Homo sapiens: one gene and its partners. The protein of the gene in region 5 purifies or fractionates together with the protein of the main gene of each other region. This does not show direct contact. Each region holds a gene or a part of one and is shown on either strand. Other genes may lie near its edges.

What was found.
Region 1: the proteins of ST8SIA4 (region 5) and STK39 purify together in Homo sapiens (affinity purification with mass spectrometry; 2 studies listed by BioGRID and IntAct, with this or other methods). This does not show direct contact.
Region 2: the proteins of ST8SIA4 (region 5) and ITGA7 purify together in Homo sapiens (affinity purification with mass spectrometry; 2 studies listed by BioGRID and IntAct, with this or other methods). This does not show direct contact.
Region 3: the proteins of ST8SIA4 (region 5) and ITGAV purify together in Homo sapiens (affinity purification with mass spectrometry; 2 studies listed by BioGRID and IntAct, with this or other methods). This does not show direct contact.
Region 4: the proteins of ST8SIA4 (region 5) and PLXNA2 purify together in Homo sapiens (affinity purification with mass spectrometry; 2 studies listed by BioGRID and IntAct, with this or other methods). This does not show direct contact.
Region 6: the proteins of ST8SIA4 (region 5) and RUFY1 purify together in Homo sapiens (affinity purification with mass spectrometry; 2 studies listed by BioGRID and IntAct, with this or other methods). This does not show direct contact.
Region 7: the proteins of ST8SIA4 (region 5) and ACTA2 purify together in Homo sapiens (affinity purification with mass spectrometry; 2 studies listed by BioGRID and IntAct, with this or other methods). This does not show direct contact.

The regions. Positions count from the first base shown.
Region 1 is NC_000002.12:168,139,596-168,143,095, forward strand, and holds part of STK39 (STE20/SPS1-related proline-alanine-rich protein kinase), read right to left. Parts: intron 1,164-3,500; coding exon 1,054-1,163; intron 796-1,053; coding exon 694-795; intron 1-693. UniProt on the Homo sapiens protein: Effector serine/threonine-protein kinase component of the WNK-SPAK/OSR1 kinase cascade, which is involved in various processes, such as ion transport, response to hypertonic stress and blood pressure.
Region 2 is NC_000012.12:55,694,405-55,697,904, forward strand, and holds part of ITGA7 (integrin alpha-7 isoform 2 precursor), read right to left. Parts: intron 3,419-3,500; coding exon 3,291-3,418; intron 3,143-3,290; coding exon 3,047-3,142; intron 2,874-3,046; coding exon 2,812-2,873; intron 2,665-2,811; coding exon 2,495-2,664; intron 2,029-2,494; coding exon 1,879-2,028; intron 1,234-1,878; coding exon 1,118-1,233; intron 567-1,117; coding exon 374-566; intron 292-373; coding exon 211-291; intron 119-210; coding exon 39-118; intron 1-38. UniProt on the Homo sapiens protein: Integrin alpha-7/beta-1 is the primary laminin receptor on skeletal myoblasts and adult myofibers.
Region 3 is NC_000002.12:186,677,056-186,679,228, forward strand, and holds part of ITGAV (integrin alpha-V isoform 1 preproprotein), read left to right. Parts: intron 1-141; coding exon 142-237; 3' UTR 238-2,173.
Region 4 is NC_000001.11:208,038,385-208,041,884, forward strand, and holds part of PLXNA2 (plexin-A2 precursor), read right to left. Parts: intron 1,675-3,500; coding exon 1,608-1,674; intron 1,384-1,607; coding exon 1,237-1,383; intron 601-1,236; coding exon 441-600; intron 91-440; coding exon 1-90. UniProt on the Homo sapiens protein: Coreceptor for SEMA3A and SEMA6A. Necessary for signaling by SEMA6A and class 3 semaphorins and subsequent remodeling of the cytoskeleton. Plays a role in axon guidance, invasive growth and cell migration.
Region 5 is NC_000005.10:100,851,283-100,854,782, reverse strand, and holds part of ST8SIA4 (CMP-N-acetylneuraminate-poly-alpha-2,8-sialyltransferase isoform a precursor), read left to right. Parts: intron 1-3,500. UniProt on the Homo sapiens protein: Catalyzes the transfer of a sialic acid from a CMP-linked sialic acid donor onto a terminal alpha-2,3-, alpha-2,6-, or alpha-2,8-linked sialic acid of an N-linked glycan protein acceptor through alpha-2,8-linkages.
Region 6 is NC_000005.10:179,595,554-179,599,053, forward strand, and holds part of RUFY1 (RUN and FYVE domain-containing protein 1), read left to right. Parts: intron 1-350; exon of another isoform or gene 351-1,008; coding exon 1,009-1,128; intron 1,129-1,268; exon of another isoform or gene 1,269-1,408; intron 1,409-2,699; exon of another isoform or gene 2,700-2,802; intron 2,803-3,138; coding exon 3,139-3,268; intron 3,269-3,500. UniProt on the Homo sapiens protein: Activating adapter involved in cargo sorting from early/recycling endosomes. Regulates retrieval of proteins from endosomes to the trans-Golgi network through interaction with the dynein-dynactin complex.
Region 7 is NC_000010.11:88,942,774-88,946,273, reverse strand, and holds part of ACTA2 (actin, aortic smooth muscle), read left to right. Parts: intron 1-2,366; coding exon 2,367-2,477; intron 2,478-3,500. UniProt on the Homo sapiens protein: Actins are highly conserved proteins that are involved in various types of cell motility and are ubiquitously expressed in all eukaryotic cells.

The DNA of each region.
Region 1 (3,500 bases), on a different chromosome or scaffold from region 5:
ATAAATCCTCCCAAATTTTTCCAGTAACCATGAAACAATCATAGACCATACTCTATGTAAAATAGCATTATAATTTCACTAAACTATTTCAGCCTCAAAACAAAATCCAGTTGGGTAAATAAGCCCTGATACCACTATCTCAGAACTAAGAGAAATAATGAGGTATAAACCAGTTAAAAGAAGAGCAGAAACGTGAAAATAGCATCCTAAAAACACTGTGGCTCACTTATATCAGATCAGTTGCCAACATTACACTATAAGAGCAGGGGTAAAAATGTTGTAGTCCACTTAAAAAGAAAGAAAAAAAAAAGCTCTGAAAATCTGGGAAACCCATTTGCAGAGATGACATCACTATAATCTATTTTGAGATATTCTCTGGGAACCTGGCGTTGTTCTGCTATCAAAAGAGTAATGACCAGCATTTGTCATAGCTATCAACCTCCATCAACCAATCTGATAACATTATTTTCTTAACTCTGTGCTGAGACTATAAAGCAAGCTTCAAAGCTGGGAATTATGCTACTTTTGTCCTATTCTGTCCACTGAGAAAATCAGACAATGTTCAACTTGGCTGCGTTCCTCCATTAATTCTCCTCGGGTCTAAGAGAAGAATGAAGATGTTGAAGAGAATTAGAAAACAGATTCCGTCCAATCACATTTCAACCCCGATGTAGTATTTCCAATTGTAATTACTTTCATGGGAGGATATTTGTGATAAGGCGCTGCTCCTGTTGCTAATTCAATGGCAGTTATTCCAAAACTCCACATGTCAGCCTTGAAGTCATAGCCTCTCACCTAAGAAAGAAAGCAGGAAAAAAACACAATCATACAGCAGGCATGTTACACATCATCAAGTCCATGTCATGTCAGAAATCCACAGCTGTTGATGTATAACTTTCACGTTAGTTTGCTAATTAGCTAGCAATTGAGAATTAAATCTTAGTTACATTATGCATTCTACTAAAATGCTAGATACAAATGAAATGTTAGCATATTAATGATCTGTACGATTGTACTATGTCCATCAAAAAGTCACTTTTTTTGTTTTTTTACCTGTTCCATGACTTCAGGAGCCATCCAACATGGGGTGCCAACGAATGTTTTTCTTACTTTATTTCGGGTAACATCACCCCCTGTTGCTAGGAACGCACTTACCCCAAAATCTGAAAGGGAAAAAAAAATCACCTTTATTTTATGTAAGACATTATTGCTTATAAATTGTGATTTTTTGAGCATGTCTCTTCTTTGTGAGCTTTACAGTGGTGATGAACTATTCCAAACATGTCTACGGTGCTCTCTCAGGAAAAAAAAGGAAGACCTGCCCTCTGCTATCCCCTACACCTTGGAGAATACCATCGCTGGTAATGGGCCACAAGCCTGCCGGTCCAAAAGCTTAGCATACCAAATTAAATATAAAGGGTGTTAGCTTTTAGCTGAGGTATATAAAGATAAGATATATAAAGCCAACATGCCCGAGTATGTCCATATGCAAAAAAGCTTAGTCAGCAAAGACTGATTTTCTGGACAATTTTCATAAGTACAGAGGCAATGGATTGTACAAGTAAATAATATTTTTCTTAACTTTAACTCATTATATATAGAAGTTAATTTTATAAGAAGATGAATTAATTAGGCATACTGTACAGATTGAGCATCCGGAAATGCTTGCGACCAGAAATGTTTTAGATTTTGGATTTTTTCTCATTTTAAAATACTTGCATTATATACTAAACTAGTTAAGTACCCCTCATTCGAAAACCAGAAATCTGAAATGTACCCGTGAACATTTCCTTTGAATGTCACCTCACATTCAAAAAGTTTCAGAATTTGGAACATTTGAGATTTCACATATTCTGATTTAGGGATACTCAACCTATATATACATACAGGCACATGTGTAAAAATTCTATTTGTATGTACAGTACAGAAGGGAATGCCTGGCAATTATTAACGTACTATTCTTGCTTTCATTTTTACACAGTGGTTAAAAGTAGTTGATAAGTTAAAGTACCAATTACTCAAGACTAGTGTACCTATCAATGATAGCCAGGTCAAGGACTACTTGATAGCGAGCTGGTGGGTAGTAATAAAAACAGGTAGGCAACACATCAAAACACCACAGCGCAATGTGCAGTCTGAGCCCCTGCAAATCGCTCTCATACGCTTTTCCTTTGCGAGTCCCCCTTGTTGGCTGTCAGGGTGACAGCAATTACCAAAAAACACCCTCAAGTACAAACCAAGGTCAAAATGTATTAGCATTTGCTGTAGGCCTATAAGGTTAGTTTATGCAATTGTAACTTAATAACATTGTAACTGGTTTCCTGAGTAGAAATACATTGAATGTTGCATTTTATTTATATTTAAATTTACTCATACTCCCAACAGGATTTCAACTACAAATAAAAGGAATGAAAATTGACAAATGGAGTCTTTGTTCCAACTGCTACTCTCATGTTCATATTGAATAAAAGTATATATGTTTAAACTGCTAAATAACTTAATATGCATATATGTTTCCAACTCTAAAGCCCTTTTAATTCTTATACTGCAGCCAGAAAACTGAAGTCTTGTGAAAAGAAATCTCTGGAACCAGTCAGTCTCCTGTGGGTGGGAGAAGATACAATTCATTCTCTTAGAGAAGAGTTAGGTGAATTAAAATATTTGTAAGCATCTACTATATCTGCTGGAAAAAATATATATGATAAAACTTTGAAAGCTACTAATTTCAACTTAATTTATATTTCTAAAAAGAAGTTCAACGATGAATCCAACATTTCATTTTTATTAAAATGATTTTATAATATAATATGAAATAAATACATATCATCTATAAATTAAGGATACAGGTAAAAGCTGCTTTAAGGAAAAATTGATTATTTTAAATGCAATTGAAGCAACTCTGCACCCTAAAGTCTCTTCCTAAAAGACATAATCCAGGTAAAAATCCATAGTTAACATTAGATATATTTCCACTTCCTTAAAAATACTACCTGCTTACATTACACATTTTAAAAAGTTAGAAAACAGCCGAAAAAGATGTATAGTAGCCATTTATTATTGACAATACCCTTTCAATATATCTGTAATGATACATACATTCAGAGCCTCCACTTTGAACACTCACTTTAAAGTCATAAACAGATGGCTAAATGTCTTTAAAACTCAGAACAAAAATTTCAGGAGCAGAAAACAACAATCCTAATATCTACTCCCTCTATGACTACAGAAGAAATATACAATTTGCTCCTATGTACGGCTGATGTGTATACAGATTATATGTACTCAGTAACAGAACATTTTGAGCAAAGTACATAGTGTGCTTATGTTATATACACAAAAAATTGGTATATTATATTGAGATAGCTTGCATATGACAGTTAGAACAAGGTGGCAGAACTGTAACAGTGAAAAGCTGTCCTTGTTTCCTAAGGGGTACATCTATACAGCCAAAGGGAATGCAGCCAGATTCACTTGGGTACAAAACCACAGACATTTCTCTA
Region 2 (3,500 bases), on a different chromosome or scaffold from region 5:
CTACCCCCACCTCACCCTTCCGGCCCCGCCTGGCTTACGTGGCCAACAGCAGCTCTACCTCCAGTTCCGTGGTCTCAATGCTGATCCCGGAGGTGCTAAGGATGAGGTAGAAGGTGACCTAGGCCAAGGGTGGAAAGAGATTAGAGTCAGGGGTGGTCTACGGGCTTATGGAGAGGCTACTCACGTAGGGATAAGGGCAGATGTGCCAACCTGGGCACCTCTCTTCATGGGGTTCCCCAGCTCACACTCAACATGGGAGGCATTCTCATTGGACAGGCAGAGTGGCTTCTCCTGGAATGGGAGAGAAGGCAAGGTCAGTCTGGGTTACTGGAGCCCCTCAAGACCCCACCCCATCCTGCCCCCAGGTCCTCACCGCAGGGTCCAGGGCCCGGACCCCTGAGTAGTGCAGTGAGTCAGGAAGCATGACCAGGAGCTGGGCTTCATGGGCATCATCCCCATCAGCCTGGGGCTGGGCTGGGTCCGATGGCAGGTTGGTGACCATCAGCTCCAGGCCAATGACTGGCTGCCCACTCAGTGCAAACAGGGCTGTTGTTCCATCCACATCCCTGGAGAGTCAGACCCCACTCCTGCTAAGTTCTGAACACCTCCCCCTACCATTCCCCCGCCCAGTCTGCTCCCCCAGTACCTGCCTTCACTCCCTGAGCCTCTCTTCCCACCCCAGGTCCCCATCACACCCGTCCAAGCCTCAGGCCTCTGTACACACGACTGGGAGTCAGGGGACCTCCGTTCTCATCTCAGCTCCACCATTACTTACCTTGGCCAAGTAACTTAACCTCTCTAGGCTTCAGTTCTCCATCTATAAAATGAGACTAATATAATTCCTACCTCACAGAGGTTTGAAGACTAACCAATGAGATGTATGTAGACTGCATATTATTAGTGTACTGTGAAGGATTGCTATTCCTTGCCATGGGAGCCCCCGTGGCCCCATCACTGACCCTCATCTCAGTCTCCAAGTCCATCGGCAGGTCCTCTTCCACCTTCTGCCTTTTCTGCAGGCTCAGCCCTTCCCTCTGACTGGTCCTCCTGAGAGGGCTTTCTCTCAATCCTTGAACTCTTGCCCTCCCACCCCCACCCTGCTCTCTGCCCCCCTCACATGGGCAGAGGTTGGAATTCCGTGTCGCTGACCCGGGTACAGAAGCGGGCGCGGACCAGCTGCAGATTGCTCTGGCAGATCTTGTCTTCACCACAGCCTTGCTTCAGGAAGTGGATCTGGGGAGAGACATGAGATAAGGGGCATTCCTAGGGGGCAAGGCAGGGGGCAAACCTGTCACCATGGCATATGGTGGGTTAGAGTATCACAGGATTAAACAACCTGTCCTCAACTCTCAGATCTGCTGCTTATTAGCCATGTGATCCTGAACTGGGTCCTCTCCTCTGGGTCCTCTCATCATGGTAGTGATGGGAGCACTACCATGCCATGGTAGAGACTAGCAGCAAGTCAAGAGCTGGGCCACACTGCCCCAGCTCACATGCATGTAACTGAGTTCCGGATTTAGAACGGGAAAAGATGTCAAGGGCACCACTTCTGGGCCAGCCATAAAAACCATGCAAGCAAGGGGCCTCATGTTCTCCCTTCCAGCTGAATGGGATGAATGTGACTTCAAGAGCTTGAAGGCCGCATTTGAAGATTACAGAATCCCATCAACCTGAGCCCCCTGAATGACTACATGGAGTAGAGGAGCTCTGTCCCCTTGACTAGGAACATGGTCATTTAGGCACCTAGAGATATGAGGAATTACTGGAGTAGCATACGTGAAAGGGCTCTGTGAGCTGTGAATTGGTGTCACTGGGGAGGGACCATGATCTTTGCCCTCCCAGCTCCTCCCCCTGGGCTAAACCAGAACCCATGCTCACCTCTGCCCGCTGGGTGCTGGGCTGGTGGGCATTGAGGATGGGGGCCACTGGAGGCAGCCCCTGGCCAGGAGCCTGTCGCCGGAGCCGAGGGGTCTGGAGACTGTAGGACAAGGTCACTACAATGGCCCGAAGCTTGTCTTTGACATTTTCCTAGGAAGAGGAAGGTCTATTCCTCACTGGAACAATCCCCAGGCCTCAGCCCTGCTCAGTGCCCCAGCCAGACCTAGGACCAATTCTAAAACTTGGAAAGAATATTAGGGAGATGAATGAGAGAGGTGGAGAACTGAGCAAGGAGGAGGGAGAAAGACTGGGGTAGGGGACAGGGGAAACCTTTAGGGCTTTGAGGACCAGATGTGATGATAAAAGCTGCCACCTCCTCCATTCAGCTGGAAGAGGGGACATGAAGCCCCTTGCACCTCCTCCTCCTCCAGGGAGTGCAGAAATGACAGGAGAGGGCAGCAGATGAGGAGGAAGTGAGCTCAGAAGACAGGTTTCCCACGTGTCTAGGTCTTAGAAGGAGGCACGAGTGTGCTCGGGAAAAAGCAGCTAAGAGGAATCAGGGAAAAGAGATGGAGCCATGAAAATGACCCTCAGAAGCCAAGGGGTCAGTGTCCACCTGGAGCTGGAACATGGCGTCTCCACAGACTCGGTCATGCTGGTGCTTCAGCCACACGGTGCCCGAGGCCTGGTGCTTGGGTTCTTCCAGGTTACGGCTCAGGAACGTCACACGGGGAACCTGGCCCCGGAGCCTCCGGTCTGTGTCCGCATCTAACACATAGTCCAGGGCTGTGGCATGTTGGGAAAGGAGGAGCTGCTGAGCTGCAGAGCTGCTCCAGCTCACCCCATTCCAAGGGTGCTCTTCTACCACCTCGAAGTGACCCCCCTCCCTGGGAAACCCAAAAGGGCGAGCCACAGAGGGGGGACCGCACTCACCCACAGTAGGGCTATAGCTGCTGGGGACTGCAATGTAGCTGAAACAGACCCTTAGGTCCACACTGCGGGGGCAAAGGTGGCTCCTGAGCCAAACGAGGCTGATGGGCCAAGGCCCCTACCCCCACCCCATCTGTCACATCCTGTCACAGCCCCAGCCCCAAACTGGGGAGATAAAGGATCAAAGGGAGGGCAGGGGAAGCTGCCAGGGTCCAGGTGCCACCCGATCCCACCTCACCAGACCGAGTGGCCGCCAGCACAGTTGGGCTGCTCCAGGTCGATGCTTCGTGGAGCAATAGAGACCTCATGGGAGACATGGAGGATGGGTCTGGCCCTGGGATTGGGGAGTCAAGAGCACAAGAAACATGAGAACATGAGGCTGGGAAACACTCTTCAGCATTAGATTTGGCACTGAGGTCGGGGTCAGAGTCACAGGGAGGGGCTGACGGCCTCAGGGAGGGAAAAGGTTGAGAGGGGCTCACCTGAAGAGCACTGCGGTGTCAGCCAGGGAGCCCACCAGCAGGTCAGGGTATTGGTTCCCATCCATATCCAAGCTGCCTGACAGGGAGTAGCCGAAGCTCTTGATGCCCACAGCCTCGCCCTCCAGCACCTAGAGAACCAGCTGTCAGCCTCCCTCAATCCCACCTCCCGCAGGCCTCTGCCTCCCCTGATGCCTCTGCTGATTCCACCCA
Region 3 (2,173 bases), on a different chromosome or scaffold from region 5:
GAGCATTACTTATTATATGAGGGAAGATAAATTTTATGAAATACAATTTAAATGTTCTTAGTGGTAATATAGTCACCCAAAAAATACTTTTCGTATTCTACACTGATGTGACAGTAATAATGGTTTTTCTTCAACTGACAGATGGGCTTTTTTAAACGGGTCCGGCCACCTCAAGAAGAACAAGAAAGGGAGCAGCTTCAACCTCATGAAAATGGTGAAGGAAACTCAGAAACTTAACTGCAGTTTTTAAGTTATGCTACATCTTGACCCACTAGAATTAGCAACTTTATTATAGATTTAAACTTTCTTCATGAGGAGTAAAAATCCAAGGCTTTACTGCTGATAGTGCTAATTGGCATTAACCACAAAATGAGAATTATATTTGTCAACCTTCTCCTTATAAATAAGTTCAGACATACATTTAATAACATAGGGTGACTTGTGTTTTTAGGTATTTAAATAATAAAATTTCAAGGGATAGTTTTTATTCAATGTATATAAGACAGGTAGTGCCTGATTTACTACTTTATATAAAATAGTACCTCCTTCAGTTACTGTTTCTGATTTAATGTACGGAACTTTATTTGTTGTTGTTGTTGTTGTTGTTGTTGTTGTTTTAAAGCAGTCCAAATTTGGACCTTAGCAATCATGTCTTTTGTATAGGTACTTAATGTTAATACATATTACACTACAGTTTACTTTTCAGAATACTAAAGACTTTATAACTGCATGAACTTGGATTTTTTTAATCACTCATATGGTAGAATTTTATAAACACATACATGATACCATCCAAATTCTTGCTTTTAATAACAAAGGTACAATATTTTGTTTTAGTATGAAAATCTGGTAGATCCTATTACACTTCTGTTTATATTAAATCCACAATATTTTATTACATTTTTAACTTGTATAAATTTTAGGTCAAATCCTTCAAGCCAACCTATACTAAAAATTAGTTCCATAATCACAAATGGCTCTTTTGTGTAATTGTTTAATTTCACCTGAATATCATAATGCTTAAAGCCATATGGAGTTGGAAATTATTTCCAAAGCATATTTATTCCATTGTTTTAGTCTGGCTATTTACAGTATAAAAAAAGCATTTTTATTAAAATACTGTGTAGTTCTTTGAGATAGTTGCTTATGCATATAGTAAGTATTACATTCTTAGAGTAGAGCAGAGTTTTTAGTTAGTATTAATTTATTTTCCTCCATTCATGTACTTTTCCTTATATTTCCAAAACTGTTACTGAGAATGGGTCAAGATCAGTGAGAAATCTTTACAGTTGACAGGAACCTGGACCCCTTACCCCAACTTTATGAGTAATGCTTGGAATAAAAACTCTTAAGGCAACTCACTGATTTACTTCTAGCAATAGCATGATGTTACAGGAATATTACCTCTGTTTAAGCAAGGTAATGTGTAAAATCAGTCTCGGCTGTCAGAATAACTTCTAAAAGGTATTTTTATAAGCAGTTCAAGTTACTGAAAACCTTTTAAACCTTTCTGAAGTTCGTTAGTATAAATTACTTTTCTAGGATTATTAATAAAAGCCACATAGGTGGCAAGTTGTAGTTTTATATGGCTCTGTAGAGTGGTGAACCTTCTAGAGGAATATATGATTTATTCACAGTTCCTCAAGGCCTGGGGATGATGATCAGTTATACCTATTTTTGTGCAATTACATCATGTTGTACATTAGAAATGGAGAGTTTAATAGCTCTTTAACTGCTGTCCTCATTAGGTAATGATAAATATTTCCCTTAAATAATTGACTATTTTGCTGTGTTTTAAAAATGATTGAAATTTATCTTGCCATATCTCATAATTTCATGCACAAGTTGACTGAGCTAATCTTGAGAATATATTCGTAAAATAGGAGCACATTTAGTTGAGGTATACAAGGTAGGACTCTAGACAAAACCTTCTATTTTAGCTTTAGTGAATTTCAAAAGTAATGGGTCTTGGAGTATAGATTTTTATTAGTAGCTTGAAAGAGCTTAATCATATGCAGTAAGTATTTTTATTACCAATAAATTTAAAATTTTTTAAGAAAAATATTTTTATCCTAGGGCCAAGTGTTGCCTGCCACCAATCAGTAAGTTAGTCTATAACAAATTTTACCCTAACAGTTTTACCACCTAGTAACAGTCATTTCTGAAAATATGT
Region 4 (3,500 bases), on a different chromosome or scaffold from region 5:
GTGTGTTGAGCCGCTTCCAGTCACCCTCAATCTTGGTGGTGATGTCCTCATCTTGCAGCACGACCCGGGCGATCCGGCCTTGGCGCCACTCTGGGTGGAGGGGGTGGTGCAGGGAGCGGCGTGAGAGGGATGAGGGCTGTGAGCCAGTGTCTCCCGATTGCACCTTCTCTAGGGACCTGGCAACCCGGCCCCCTCAAGCTGGTACCAATAACAGAGGCTAGAGACATCTAGGGCTCCATGGGCCCAGGCAGCAGAGGAAACACGTAGACCTCCCCAGAGACAGCCACATCTGAACAGGCAGCGCTCAAAGCGGGAAGCATTTCACACGGGCCTCAGCTGGCCAGGACACAGTCATGCCCCTGCAAGGGTTGTGTGCATGGCAGCTTCCCTTCCTTCACCTCTCAACCCCTGCCCTCACACTCTGAGTCCAGGTTTCCTACCCAAGTCCATGTCCACTGCCCTCGGCCGCTGGGAATAGGGCACATTCTTATACACGGCATCAAGAATCTTCTCCTTGACCTGTGTGATGGTGTCACAGTTTAACACCTTCACTGGGATCTCTGGACTGTTCTCGTTGTCAGGGTTGACGCAGTTCAGGATCTACAAGTAGGGGACAGAGGGTGAGCAGGACAGGAGTTGAAGGAGTAGTTTGAGGGAGAGGGTCAGGACCTCAGAATCTTCTTTTTCCAAAGTTCACCCTCCTTATAGGGGAAATAAGGGTACTTTTCTGGTCTGTGACTCAGTTTCCCTCACCTTCATAACATCTGCCAAATGAGAGTCTGAGTCATTGTGTCCAATTCTTCTTTCTCAAAGCACCAGGACTCTACTTTCTAGCTCCTGGACAGCTTAGGGGAGACTATAGTCCTGGAATGAGGCACCCTCAGTGTTTAGAGATGGCTCTACATGTATCAGAGACTAGTCATGCACTTCCCCAAAGCCTCTATGTTAGGAACCAACATACATCTTTCTCATAATACCAATTACCCAATAACTAATGATGGGTGAACTTTTTTCTCCCCCAATATTATCTAGGATAAACCGAGGCATAGAGTGCTTGGGATGGGTGGGCGGGCCTGCCACCTTGCTCTTGGTACACTTAGTTGTCCTTTGGGCTCACCCCAGACCAGCCTCCCATCCTCTTTATTGACCCCCTAGACTGCTTTTATGGACAGAAGGCAGAGCAAGGGGCAGAAGTAGAAGATACACAGGCGGGCCCGGAGCTTCCGGCTTCCTCACCAGGGTCTTGTACTCGATCTGCTGCCGGATGAGCTTGTCCTCGCTCAGGGAGTAGCGGGCCTCGCCCGTGATGGCATCAATGGGGCCCTTCTCCATCTGCTGCTTGATGGCACAGTATAGCATGAAGAGTGGCTCCCCTGCGCACTCCTGTGGGCACAGACAGGGCAGGAGGTGTGGGCACGGCCTCCTCAGGTTTGTACGTTTTCCCTTTCCTCTCTCGGAGCGAGGCCAGTGGAAGGAAGGGCTTTAGCACAGCCAGTCCAGGTTCCTGCTCCCGAGGGAGGGGGTCCCCATGCAGCCCTGTGGCCAGGATCTAAGCAGCAGTGCCATCCTGCCCTGGACGCTAGGCCCCGTCTCACTCCCTTTCTCACCTTTAGGAACTTGTGCAGGAGGAAGGCGAACCAATTGGTCAGCATCTTTTCAGCCACAGACTCTGTCCTGGGGAAGGGACAAAGGGTAAGGGGCAGTCCTTCACAGAGGGGTCTCCGTGGTGGGGCCTGGGCTTGCCATGAGGTCTCCCAAGAGAACAATGGAGCATGGGAGAACGCAGGGCGGGAGTCAGGACACCTGGGTCCCAGCCCAGCTCACCCAGTAACTAGACTGTGACCTGGGGGTAGGGGTGGCTTCTTTCTGGGCCTCAATTTCCTATGAAAATGGAGAGGTTGGCCTTTTCAGCCCTGATGGTCCGTGGTGCTCTGAACTTTGGCTGCATCTGAGACAGGGTCTGTGGATAAAGGCACCTCACTATCCCACAGGGCTATAAAGAACCGGTTCTCCCAACTCACTTCTGGCCTCAGGGTGATAACTAGAGAGTTTCCCAGTCCCTCTGGGCTTTCTTGCATGTGTGAGTACCCTGTTTTGCCTATCTGGAAGGTGCCTGGTCCCTTCCCCTCCAAAAACACTCAAGGTTAGACTTCCTTGGGTTCAAATCCTGATTCTGCCATACGTTGGCTGTGTGACCTTGGGCAAGTCATTTAACCTCTCTGGTTTCAGTATTCCTATCACTAAATGGAGACAGTCATAATAACATCCAACCCCAGTGGTTGTTGTCAGGGTTGAATGAGTTAATATTTGTAAAGTGCTAAGAAAAGTGCCTGGCACCTGCTAAGCACTATCCATTAGCTGTCATTATTGCTGTCATGTGGGGTCTTGGATCCCAGCCCTCAGGTAGAGAGCAGTGCTTAAGTGTTTTGCCAACAGGGGATTTGCTCATGCAAGGGCTGGCCCCCCTCCCCTTCCCATCCCAGGGCTACAGATCTGGGGATTTGGGAAGGAACAAAGCGGCTGTGACAGACCCTCAGTGAAGGGGATGCCGGAGGGGTATTTTAACTCCCTGCACGTGGTGCAAATTATATCCTCTGGTTGCAGTAAATCCCAGGCATTTGCCAGGGCTGCTCAGCAATCTGGGCCTGGGAGAGAGTGACAATGGCAGAAAAAATTGTAGCTTTCTCCCGTGGCTCCTCCCAGCACCCTCTCCCTGCATTGTGCTTGAGATTAGCTCTAATTTAAATACAACAGTTCTTAATGAGAGTTTCTAATGCTCAGATTGGCAGGATGGGGGCTCAGTACTCATAAAGCAAAGCCATTCTTCCTCCCTCCTCACCCCACGTGGGGCCTGGAAGCCTGAGACCTTGCTAGAGGAAGGCTAAAGAGGAGGGGTGGTGAACGGAGGTGCAGCCCTCCAGCCCCTGCTGCCCAGAGGACTCCAAAGCTGTGCCCGGCTCCCCACGGCCTCTAGAGAGGGTGGGCTCAGGGGATACTGAGGTCTCCAACCCTCTCCCCTGCCAGGAAAAATGCAGTGGGCATGTGTAGTGGATGCTGTGATTCAGATCCAGGAAGCTGAGCTCAGAAGGCACGGCCTTCTAGGCTGTCCAAATCCCTAGCTCAGTGCTGCGCAATAGAACCTTCTGCGATAATGGGAATGTTCTCTATCTGTGCGGTCCCGTATGGTGGCCACTAGCTGCAATGTGGCAACCAAGCACTTAGAAAGCGGCTAGGTGCTAGGGCAATGGAGGAGCTGGATTTTACATTCTATTTCATTTTAATTTGTAGCAGCTACCTGTGGCTAGGGGCCGCTGTGCCGGACAGCACAGCTCTAGAGGCACCGGGAGGAAGAGACTGTGAGATAGGAATTATTTTTCTCATTTTGTCTAGGAGGAAACTAAACAACAGAGTGGTTACAACACTGGCCAGAAATCACAGAGCTAGCAGGAGGCAGAGCTGGGACTCCAGCTGAGATCCGAGCAAGGGTCTGAGCTCATCCA
Region 5 (3,500 bases):
AGACTTAAAAATAGTTTCTTATACTGTAATAGGAACTGGGCTAAGGTATTTTTGTTTTGTTCCTGAGATAATTTCCTGCAAGGATTTACCATTTCCTGTTTAAATCTCTAGATAGTTTCTTGTATTGTATTATTTTGCACACAATTAAATTACATTCTTTTTTTGTTTTTTGTGTTTTGTTTTGTTTTGTTTTGTTTTTTGAGACAGAGTCTCACTCTGTTGCCCAGGCCGGAGTGCAGTGGTGCGATCTCGGCTCACTACAAGCTCTGCCTCCTGGGTTCACGCCGTTCTCCTGCCTCAGCCTCCCAAGTAGCTGGGACTACAGGTGCCCGCCACCACACCTGGCTAATTTTTTGTATTTTTAGTAGAGATGGGGTTTCACCGTCTTAGCCAGGATGGTCTCGATCTCCTGACTTCGTGATCCACCCACCTCGGCCTCCCAAAGTGCTGGAATTACATGCATGAGCCACCGTGCCTGGCCTAAATTGCATTCTTATAATTAGATCATGTTTACTCAACACACATTCTCTTGGTGGTTGACAGGAAGTTTCAACAAAATAAGATAAAAATACTGCATTTGGAGAGTAAGTCACCGCCTTTTTTTTTTAAGTTACAAATATCCCTGGTAATTACAATTTGACTCTTAAAAAAATGTGCATCTTAAGAAACTGTAACATTACAGTGCATTGTGTTAAGAACATGTCTGTTTTTGTTTGGGTATCATGTTACTCTGAAAAACACCTTAAAAAGATAATGTTTCCATCTTAAACATACACACACACACACACACACACACATACACACACACAAACACATTCCAGTGATAGCAGATTAAGTTTTAGAAAGAAATAATCTGAAGTAAGTCCTCCCTGACTATGGAAAACTAATGAGAAAACTTAAGATTACTCTGAATTAGTACCTTTGTTTCCTAGATTTTGGTTTATATTTCTCAATCCAATACCAAAACCAAAGCATGAAATAAGAGGAGTGACTGCAGTAGTGCATTTTCAGTAAGTTAGAATCCAGATAGTGTTATATATGATTAACAGTGAATACACATGGGTTTTTACAGATATTTTAAACATAAACTTTGCAGATTCTTTTAGTAATTTAACAAGACTCCTATCTTTTGTCCTATTCACTTTTATAACCATTATAAATATAAACTACTTCACTAATTCCTAACCATTTTATTCCAAAGAGCAACAAGGCCAAACTTCTGACCACTGGTGAAAGGAATGGTATGCTTTTTTTGGTTACTATGAATTAGGCATATTTTCTAAACTGATTTTGAATTCTGTAGAAATAACTTCTCTCTCCACCTTCCTGTTCACAAATCTACATATACCCTCTTAAAGTGTCAAGGTATTGAGTTCTAAACTGTGGCCAAGAATAATGAAAGTAGCTCTAGAGAGGCTTGTGACTTTTCAAATAGAATGGAAATTTGTACACATGGTGTACGTGTGAAAGGCAACTTCATTTATGGATTTTATTGAAACTAATACATTGATGTATGTAAGATAGCGTTTTGACCTAATGTGTGTACTTGCTGCTGGAACTGTAAATGAAAATAAGGAAGTGTGAGCGCTGATGAAACAAAAATGATTTTTGTGATATGAAAGCAAAGGCAAACTCCCCAAAGAACTATTCTTTAAGTAACTGTTTTACATCTCCTTTGACTTACCTCTCTGAAACCCTGTGGTTAATACAGTTCAGCAAAATAAGAAGTTTCATATCCTCTGTTGATTACTGGAGTTGGTTGCCTCTCATGAGCAATTAAAGCACCCAAGACACAGAATTTAGGGTGTGTATAATCATAATGTTAAAATGTGAAGGCTCTTCCAAGTACTGCAATTAAAATAAAAAGTTTCAGTGATTTGTAAAACAAGATTCCTGAACACAGTGAGGATCATTTAGATAGTTTTCATATGGTCAGACATCATTACTTAAACATTTTGCCCTCCAAAAACTGTGATTCCTTACTAACTTTAAAAACCTATTTAATTTTAGATTTTTCTAAAAGCTCTAAAGATGAAACCATCAGTCACAAAATTCAGATACTCTTAGGTATTGTTGTAATATATTGTCATTCTTTTGAAACCATATTCAGTAAAACAGAAGGAAAAGATATATAGGTAGATTCATAATTTAAAAAGAATCTTGAAAAATAGTAAGAGAGTAATCTAATGGGGACAAATCAGATATATAAATTGCAAGTTTAAGAGAATGTATGAAAGCATAAAATTGGTGTGGGATTGCCACTTTTTTACTGGTATTTCTTCAGAAGCCCCACACATGGGCTGCATTTTTCAAATTAACATTTTGTATTTTTTTTTTTTAATAAAGAATGGAGCAATTTTGGGCCCAGTGCAGTGGCTCATGCCTGTGATCCCAACACTTTGGGAGGCCAAGGTGCGTGGATTACCTGAGGTCAGGAGTTTGAGACGAGCCTGGCCAACATGGCGAAACCCCGCCTCTACTAAAAATACGAAAAAGAGCCAGATGTGGTGGCACACACCTGTAGTCCCCGCTACTTGGCAGGCTGAGGCAGGAGAATCACTTGAACCCAGGGAGGGAGAGGTTGCAGTGAGCCGAGCTCATGCTACTGCACTCCAGCCTGGATGACACAGTGATACTCCGTCTCAAAAAAAAAAAAAAAAAAAAAAAAGAAGAGTGGAGCAAATAAGATAGTAAGCATGAAGAGGGGATTTGGGGACTTCAAAGTCATTTAAAAATTTGGCTACAAAATGTAAAATAAAAGCTTCTTATTTATACAGTTCTAAGAAAATTATTAATATACAACTTAATATCTTAATAACCTGTTTAAATTAATGACAGTTTTATATAATATTTTAAATTATTATCTAAGACATAGCTCAAATACATTTTTATAAAATACTTAGAGTTAGGTAAAAATTCTTATTTTACAGTTACTTTAATTTGACTAGTAATAACCAAGTGTTGTTTTTACTTTGGTGGGATGATTATACTTAATTTTCTTACTTTTAATATGGGAAAAAAACAAACATTACAGAAAGTGTATCCTCAGTTTCAATATCAAACTATGACGAGAATTTCTTAAGAATCCTTCCAAAAAACCTATAGATAGACAGATAGATAGAGAAGCATATTTTAAAATTATGTTTTATATGCACAAACCTAAATATGTTTTTATTGTAGTAGCTCTACAACTCGAATCATATGTACTCTTTTGCACTTTATTTTTTAAATTAACATGACATTTTCTCAACAACACATAAATACAGCTTGTTTTTTTTAATAGGAAAGTATATTCCATTATATACTTTTCTATAATGTATTTAACCAATCTTGTTTGATGGACATTTGTAGTACTTCTCATTTGTTCTTGTTGTATATAATTTTATTTTGTTATTAAAAATATTTTAAATTATAGGAAAAATGAGAGGTAGGGAAAGGAAAGTAAATATACAATTCTGGTTAGCTGATTTTATAAACTAATAGTATATTTTAAAATATAA
Region 6 (3,500 bases), about 79 Mb from region 5:
TTTTTTTTTTTTTTTGAGCCAGAGTTTCGCTCTCATTGCCCAGGCTAGAGTGCAATGGTGCGATCTCAGCTCACCGCAATCTCTACCTCCCAGGTTCAAGCAATTCTCCTGCCTCAGCCTCCCAAGTAGCTGGGATTACAGGTGCCTGCCACCATGCCCGGCTAATTTTGTATTTTTGTAGAGATGGGGTTTCTCCATATTGATCAGGCTGGTCTCGAACTCCCGACCTCAGGTGATCTGCCCACCTAGGCCTCCCAAAGTGCTGGGATTATAGGCATGAGCCACCACACCTGGCCAGCTACCGTTTCTTTAATGACAATACCAAGTGCTGATGAGGACACGGAGCTAATGGATCTCTCATACTTTATTGGTAGGAATGCAAAATGGTGCAACCACTCAGGAAAACAGTTTCTCAAGAAGCTAAACGTCCTCTTACCATATGATCCAAATAGAAATGAAACTTATGTCTACACCAAAACTAGTACATATGTTTATAGCAGCTCCGTTCATAACTGCCAAAAGCTAGAAGCAATCCCAATGTTCTGCATTGGGTGATGGATAAACAAAGTGGTACGTCTGTGCGGTGAAGTATGACTCAGCCGTAGAAAGGAATGAACCACTGCCCTTTCAGGACGTTCAGAGAGGAAACAAAAGGCATGAACCATTGATACACATGGAAACTTGGATTGATCTCCAAGACATTATTCTGAGAAAAAGTCAGTCTCAAGGTTATATAATGTATAATTACATTGAGATTACATTCTCAAAAAGCCAAAGCCATATTGTTGCAGGACAGATGAGTGGTTGCCAGGGGCTGAGGTGGGGAGTTTTGGGAGTGGTGGGACCGTCCTGTATTCTGATTGTGGTGGAGCTGAATCTCCACGTGTTAAAACTCACAAGAGTTAATTTTACTGTATGGTAATTTTAAAAATGAATTTCAGCCAGCAAAAGTCATCCTTTCCTTACAAAGATTTGCTTCATTTGCACTCTTGCTGGTGTCGCATCCAGGTTGCAGCACTCGGAGCGGGCGAGGCAGGGGGCTGAGGAGCGGAGCCACAAGCTGCAGCAGGAGCTGGGCGGGAGGATCGGCGCCCTGCAGCTGCAGCTCTCCCAGCTGCACGAGCAATGGTAGGGGCCCTGCAGGGAGCCTGGGCTGGGGTGTGGCTCAGGAGGGACTGGGAAGAACTGGGGACAGGTGGTATCCTGCTTCAGCACGAACGGGAGGAGGGGGGGCGGGGGGGCAGGTGGTATCCTGCTTCACCACTCACCCCTGCAGGGTTCGTATGTTATCCCTAGGGAGCTCCCTCCCCACAGGGCTCCTCACGTGGTCCAGCTCGCCTCCAGAAGATCTGGCCACTCTCAAACCATGGTACCAGGTCACAGCCTGTATCACCCTTAACCACCCTTTCTAAAAAGAAACAGCTTTGTCAGTGTTGAACAGAAAGTCACCTTTCACCTAGCCTTTGCTGATGCAAGCTTCATATAATTTTGTGCACAGTTCATCTACAGATTTTTTATTTTTTAAGTCTCACTCTGTCATCCAGGCTGGAGTGCAGTGGTGCAGTCTCAGCTCACTGCAACCCCCACCTCCTGGGCTCAAGCGATTCTTGTGCCTCAGCCTCCTGAGTAGCTGGGACTACAGGTGTACATCAACACACCCGGCTAATTTTTGTGTTTGTGTTTTGTTTTGTTTTTTTTTTGAGACCGAGTCTCACTCTCTTGCCCAGGCTGGAGTGCGGTGGCGCGATCTCGGCTCACTGCAACCTCTGCCTCCCGGGTTCACGCCATTCTCCTGCCTCAGCCTCCCGAGCAGCTGGGACTACAGGCATCAGCCACCACACCTGGCTAATTTTTTGTATTTTTAGTAGAGACGGGGTTTCACTGTGTTAACCCAGGATGGTCTCGATCTCCTCACCTCGTGATCCTCCCATCTCGGCCTCCCAAAGTGCTGGGATTACAGGCGTGAGCCACTGCGCCCAGCCTAATTTTTGTATTTTTATTAGAGACAGGGTTTTGCCATGTTGGCCAGGCTGGTCTCAATCTTCTGGCCTCAAGTGATCCACCCGTCTCGGCCTCCCAGAATGCTAGGATTACAAGTGTGAACCACCGTGCCTGGCCTATAGATTTTTTGAGATAATATATATGCCAAGTTAAAAGCCTGATGTTGAGAGAAGAGAGAAGAGACATCTTTATTCCCACAAAGAGAGAGCAGACTCCAGGCGGTCCAGCAGTGCCCCCAGGGCCACTCAGCTGGTAAAGGGCAGAGTCAGCTTCAGGCTGAGGCTCCCTCCTGGCCTTCTCCCTCCAGGATCCTTCATTGTCAGTCTGGCTGTAGGTTGTAGAAAGCAGAATGAGGCCGGGCGCGGTGGCTCACGCCCATAATCCCAGCACTTTTGGGAGGCCGAGGCAGGGAGATCACGAGGTCAGGAGTTCAAGACCAGCCTGGCCAACATGGTGAAACGTCATCTCTACTAAAAATACAAAAAATTAGCTGGGCGTGGTGGCGTGTGCCTGTAATCCCAGCTACTAGGGAGGCTGAGGCAGGAGACTAGCTTGAACCCAGGAGGCAGAGGTTGCAGTGAGCCAAGATTGTGCCACTGCACTCCAGCCTGGGCGACAGAGCGAGACTCCGTCTCAAAAAAAAACAAAAAGCAGAATGAATTGGCCAGTGAGGTGGCTCATGCCTGTAATCTCTGCACCTTGGGAAGCTGTGGCGGGAGGATCACTTGAGCCCAGGAGGTCGAGGCTGCAGTGAGCTGAGGTTGCGCCACTGCACTCCAGCTGGGGTGACAGAGCTAGACCCTGTCTCAAAAAAAGAAAAGAACGAATTTTGAGCTTCCTTTCCTCAGGTCTCCATGTCGGGAGGGTTCTGCTTATGTGGTCTAAGTGTTCTAGAGCTCTCTTCCTTCTCCCCTGCGTAAGTGTCAAGTGTGTGCCTGCAGGCTTTTCTCTCCCTGGTTCCTGCTCTTTCTTGTGGAAGGGCAGGTGACCCTGGAGGAGAGGGAAGCGTTGCCGAAGGCTTTAGATGCTCAAGAGGCAATTCAGAGACTTCCCTGTTTCCTGGGCGGTGAATTGGGTTGTGAATCTTCCGTGAAAGTCTCCCACTGAGACTAACTCAAGTTCATTTTGGGAAAACAGCTCAAGCCTGGAGAAAGAATTGAAATCAGAAAAAGAGCAAAGACAGGCTCTTCAGCGCGAATTACAGCACGAGAAAGACACTTCCTCTCTACTCAGGATGGAGCTGCAACAAGTGGAAGGACTGAAAAAGGTGAGGTGGGCCATCCCGGGAGAGGAGAGCCTCTGGCAGCCTCCAGAAACCCCTAACATGCTCCGGGCAGGCTCCTCTCCCCGCACCCTTTGTGTGGGGGCCAGGCGGCTCCAGGGTGTGGGGAGGCTGTTAGGGAGCTCCTGTTTTAGGAGCATAAGACAAAGACAAATCATAAACCACTAAGCCTGCTGGCAGCTCAGATAGAGGCAAGTGCCATGAAGAGAATAAAGCA
Region 7 (3,500 bases), on a different chromosome or scaffold from region 5:
TTTAATTAACAGTGTGTGGTGGCATGCAACTGTAGTCCCAGCTACTCAGGAGGCTGAGGTGGTAGCATCATTCGAGCCCAGGAGTTCGAAGCTGCAGTGAGCTGATCATACCATCAGCTGTTGCACTCCAGCCTGGGCAACAGAGCAAGACTCTGTCTCTAAAGAAAAGGAAAAAAATGTCCTTGCCTATTAGGTTTTATTAACTAATTAAAGGATGATAGTTCTGTAGATGAGAAGAGTAGCCCTTTGCCACTGCAGGGAATTAATCATCTGTTGCTCACGTCAACTCTGTTGCCCTCCTAGGACAAGCAGTGCATGAGCAGCAGCTCAGAGAATGAAAACCCTCCTTTCATTTTCATCAGGGGCTGCATGGTTATCCCTCTCAGTGCAATATAGCTAAAGGGGCTTGAAATGCTGGGAGTAGTCTTAAACAGCCCATTCTTGAAAGGTTTTCATTAACTCACTCTAAACATCTAAATTAAAAATGTTTTTGTTTTCACTATAGTAAACAGGAGTGTAACATTGCAGGTTTGGTACATTTCTGAATGCCTCTCCACACACTGAAGCACAAGAGCCACTGAAAAAAGCTATATGATAAATATTTTAAAAATTATTTATCTGTGTTGCATTACATGAGGCCTTATCTCCCAGACACTTAATAAAAGAGCTAATGAGAAGAAGAGCTAAATTCTAAGATTTTGATGTTTGGTCATTAAACATTACAGACACCAGTGATCAGAGAAAAAAACAGAAGAAATAATGAGAAAGTGACATAAAAAATTTTAAATGCAGCAAGATATATCAGAATCACGATATCTGGCCTTTTATTTATCTATCGGCTCACTACTACTACTACGCACACAATTTATCACTTAAAAGAAAAATACATAATGTTGTTAGAATTTATCAGCAGTAATGCTCCAAGCTCTATCTTTCTACAAAAATTTCATATCAGTAGGTTTGCTTGAGGATTCTAGATTTGGTAAGATTGCAGTTTGCACAGAGAAAAAGATATCAATATCAATAGGAAAATATTCTTTTAGAATTTCTCCATGGAGCTGACAACATCTTAGAATGTATCGTCCTAGACAGAGACTATTGGAAGAAAAAACTTTCCTTATTTCTAAAATTTAAATTCAAAGTATCTTCTGGTGGGGACGAAGAGAGAGAGAGGAGAAAGGTTGCTTGCTGTGACTGGCAGGATTTTTTGAGCAGTCTGCTGCTTTCACTCCACTAAAGAAACAAAACTTTCAGAAGTTTCATTTCCCTTCTATAAACCACAAATCCAAAACAAAAGAAAGTGGAATAAGATAGTCTTTAAAGCTAATCTTGGTTTTGCTAATTTGTAAGCTTTCACCAGCAGTTCTTGTTTTGCTCTGTTTTGATTTTGAGTGAATCTCATATTCCTGGCTCTGGTGGAGAATTTTCGTGCTTTTAAAGATTAATTAATTTAGTCCTTTTTGCAATGGTTTGTTCTTTTCGGCATCTAGGAATTAAAGAAAGTGCTCAACCATAAATAAATGTAGTTATGTCCAAAGTACCTTCACATAGACACACTATACACAGGCGTGGGCCTTTTGGAAACACCTGAAGGCCAAATGTCTGACTGTGAGTGGAAGATCCAGAGTGTGCTGATAGAGGAAGCTTTTCTCATCCCTCGAGAGCAAAGAGGGTGATGGAGGCAAGAGTCAGAGAGCCCTGTTCTCTTCTTCATGTACACTGCAAAGGGCAACTTCTCTAGAAGCATTAAAAGTGTCAATTAGGTTTTCAAGTAAGCGTCATTTATTCATATATACATTCATTTGTCTTTTTATTTACAAAATTAAATCATTTTCCCATGAACATTAAAATGGGAAGAGAGAACAAAGAAAATAGAGTTGAATAATAATAACATTGATTCTGGACCAGACACTGGGCTGGACAATAACTCGAGGGTTACCTTATTTATTTACACAAAGACCCGATGAGGTACACACTAATTATTTTCATCTCCCTATTACCAATCATGAGACTGAAGCTGAGAAGGGTTAAAAACTTGCCTAAGCTCACACAACTAAGAAGTGTCCGAGCTGGGCTTTGAACCCAAGGTTTGATCAAGGGTTGTGCCCTTAACTGCCATACCATCCTGCCTCACAGATCTGGGTTAGGGATTCTGCTCAGTCACTTAGTAGATGTGAATCCTTTGGGAAGGTACTTACACACTTTGAGCTTCAGTCTCTGCATCTATAAAACCATGGACACATGCATGAGTACTTGTAGCATTTCCTTTGGTCTTGGTTTCAAGTAGCTTCTGGTCCCTTTTTGGGAAATGCAGGACCTCATGACAGCACATCATTGTGTTTCTCCTCTGTCCCCCAACTCACTAGATCTGGCACCACTCTTTCTACAATGAGCTTCGTGTTGCCCCTGAAGAGCATCCCACCCTGCTCACGGAGGCACCCCTGAACCCCAAGGCCAACCGGGAGAAAATGACTCAAGTAAGTATGCTACCCCAGCACACAACACTGTGGGGTCTGGGGAAACTTCTGTTAGAAGGAGGCTATGCAGCACAGCAGAGAGAAGGCCGGAGCTAGGAGTCCACCAACAGACTAACAGCCTTCAGTGAACTCAGGGATCCCAAAGGACAGGAACAGCTTGAAAGTACTTGCATCCTTCCTGCAGGGACCAGCCCTTTGCCTCCAAAAGCAATAGGAAATTTAAAAGATTTCACTGAGAAGGGGCCACGTTTAAGTTATAATGTCTAAGGAGAAGTCACTTCAAAATGCAGCATCACATACAATAGGAATTTGGGTTCCAGAGTCAGACATATCTAGGTTTGAAAACTGGATCTGCCACTTATCAGTTATGTGACCTTAAAGAACTCCGTTAATTTCTCAGAGCCTCAGTTTCCTTGTCTATAAGTTGGGAGTAATATTAATACTATCATTTTTCCAAGGATTGATGTGAACATTAATGAGGTGAAATGACAGATGTGTATCATGGTTCCTAATAAACATCCAAAATATAGTACTTACTATTGTCATTATTATTACTTGTTTGAAGCTAAAGACCTCACAATAGAATCCCATCCAGCCCACCAGACAGAGCTCTGAGTTTTCTAGTTTGGAAGAGCTATTAAATAACAACGTCTAGTGTCAATTCTATACTTGTTATGGTCAAGTACTGGGCTCAGCATTTTACATTCATTGTCTCTTTAAGTTCTAGCAATGTGAAGCAGGAACTATGATTATATTGACTACATAAATGAAGAAATTGAGGCTCAGATACATTAAGTAATTCTCCCAGGGTCACACAGCTAGAACTGGCAAAGCCTGGGATTGATCCACGATCTTCCAGCATTGAAGAATCATAAATGTAAATAACTGCAAGGCCTTTTCCTCAGAAGAGCTCCTGGTGCTTGCACCAACCCACTAGCACTTGTTCTCTACAGGGGAACATCTGTGGGCCTGGGAATCACTGCACGTCGCAAGAGATGTTGCTTCTGATGAATTATTGTTCCT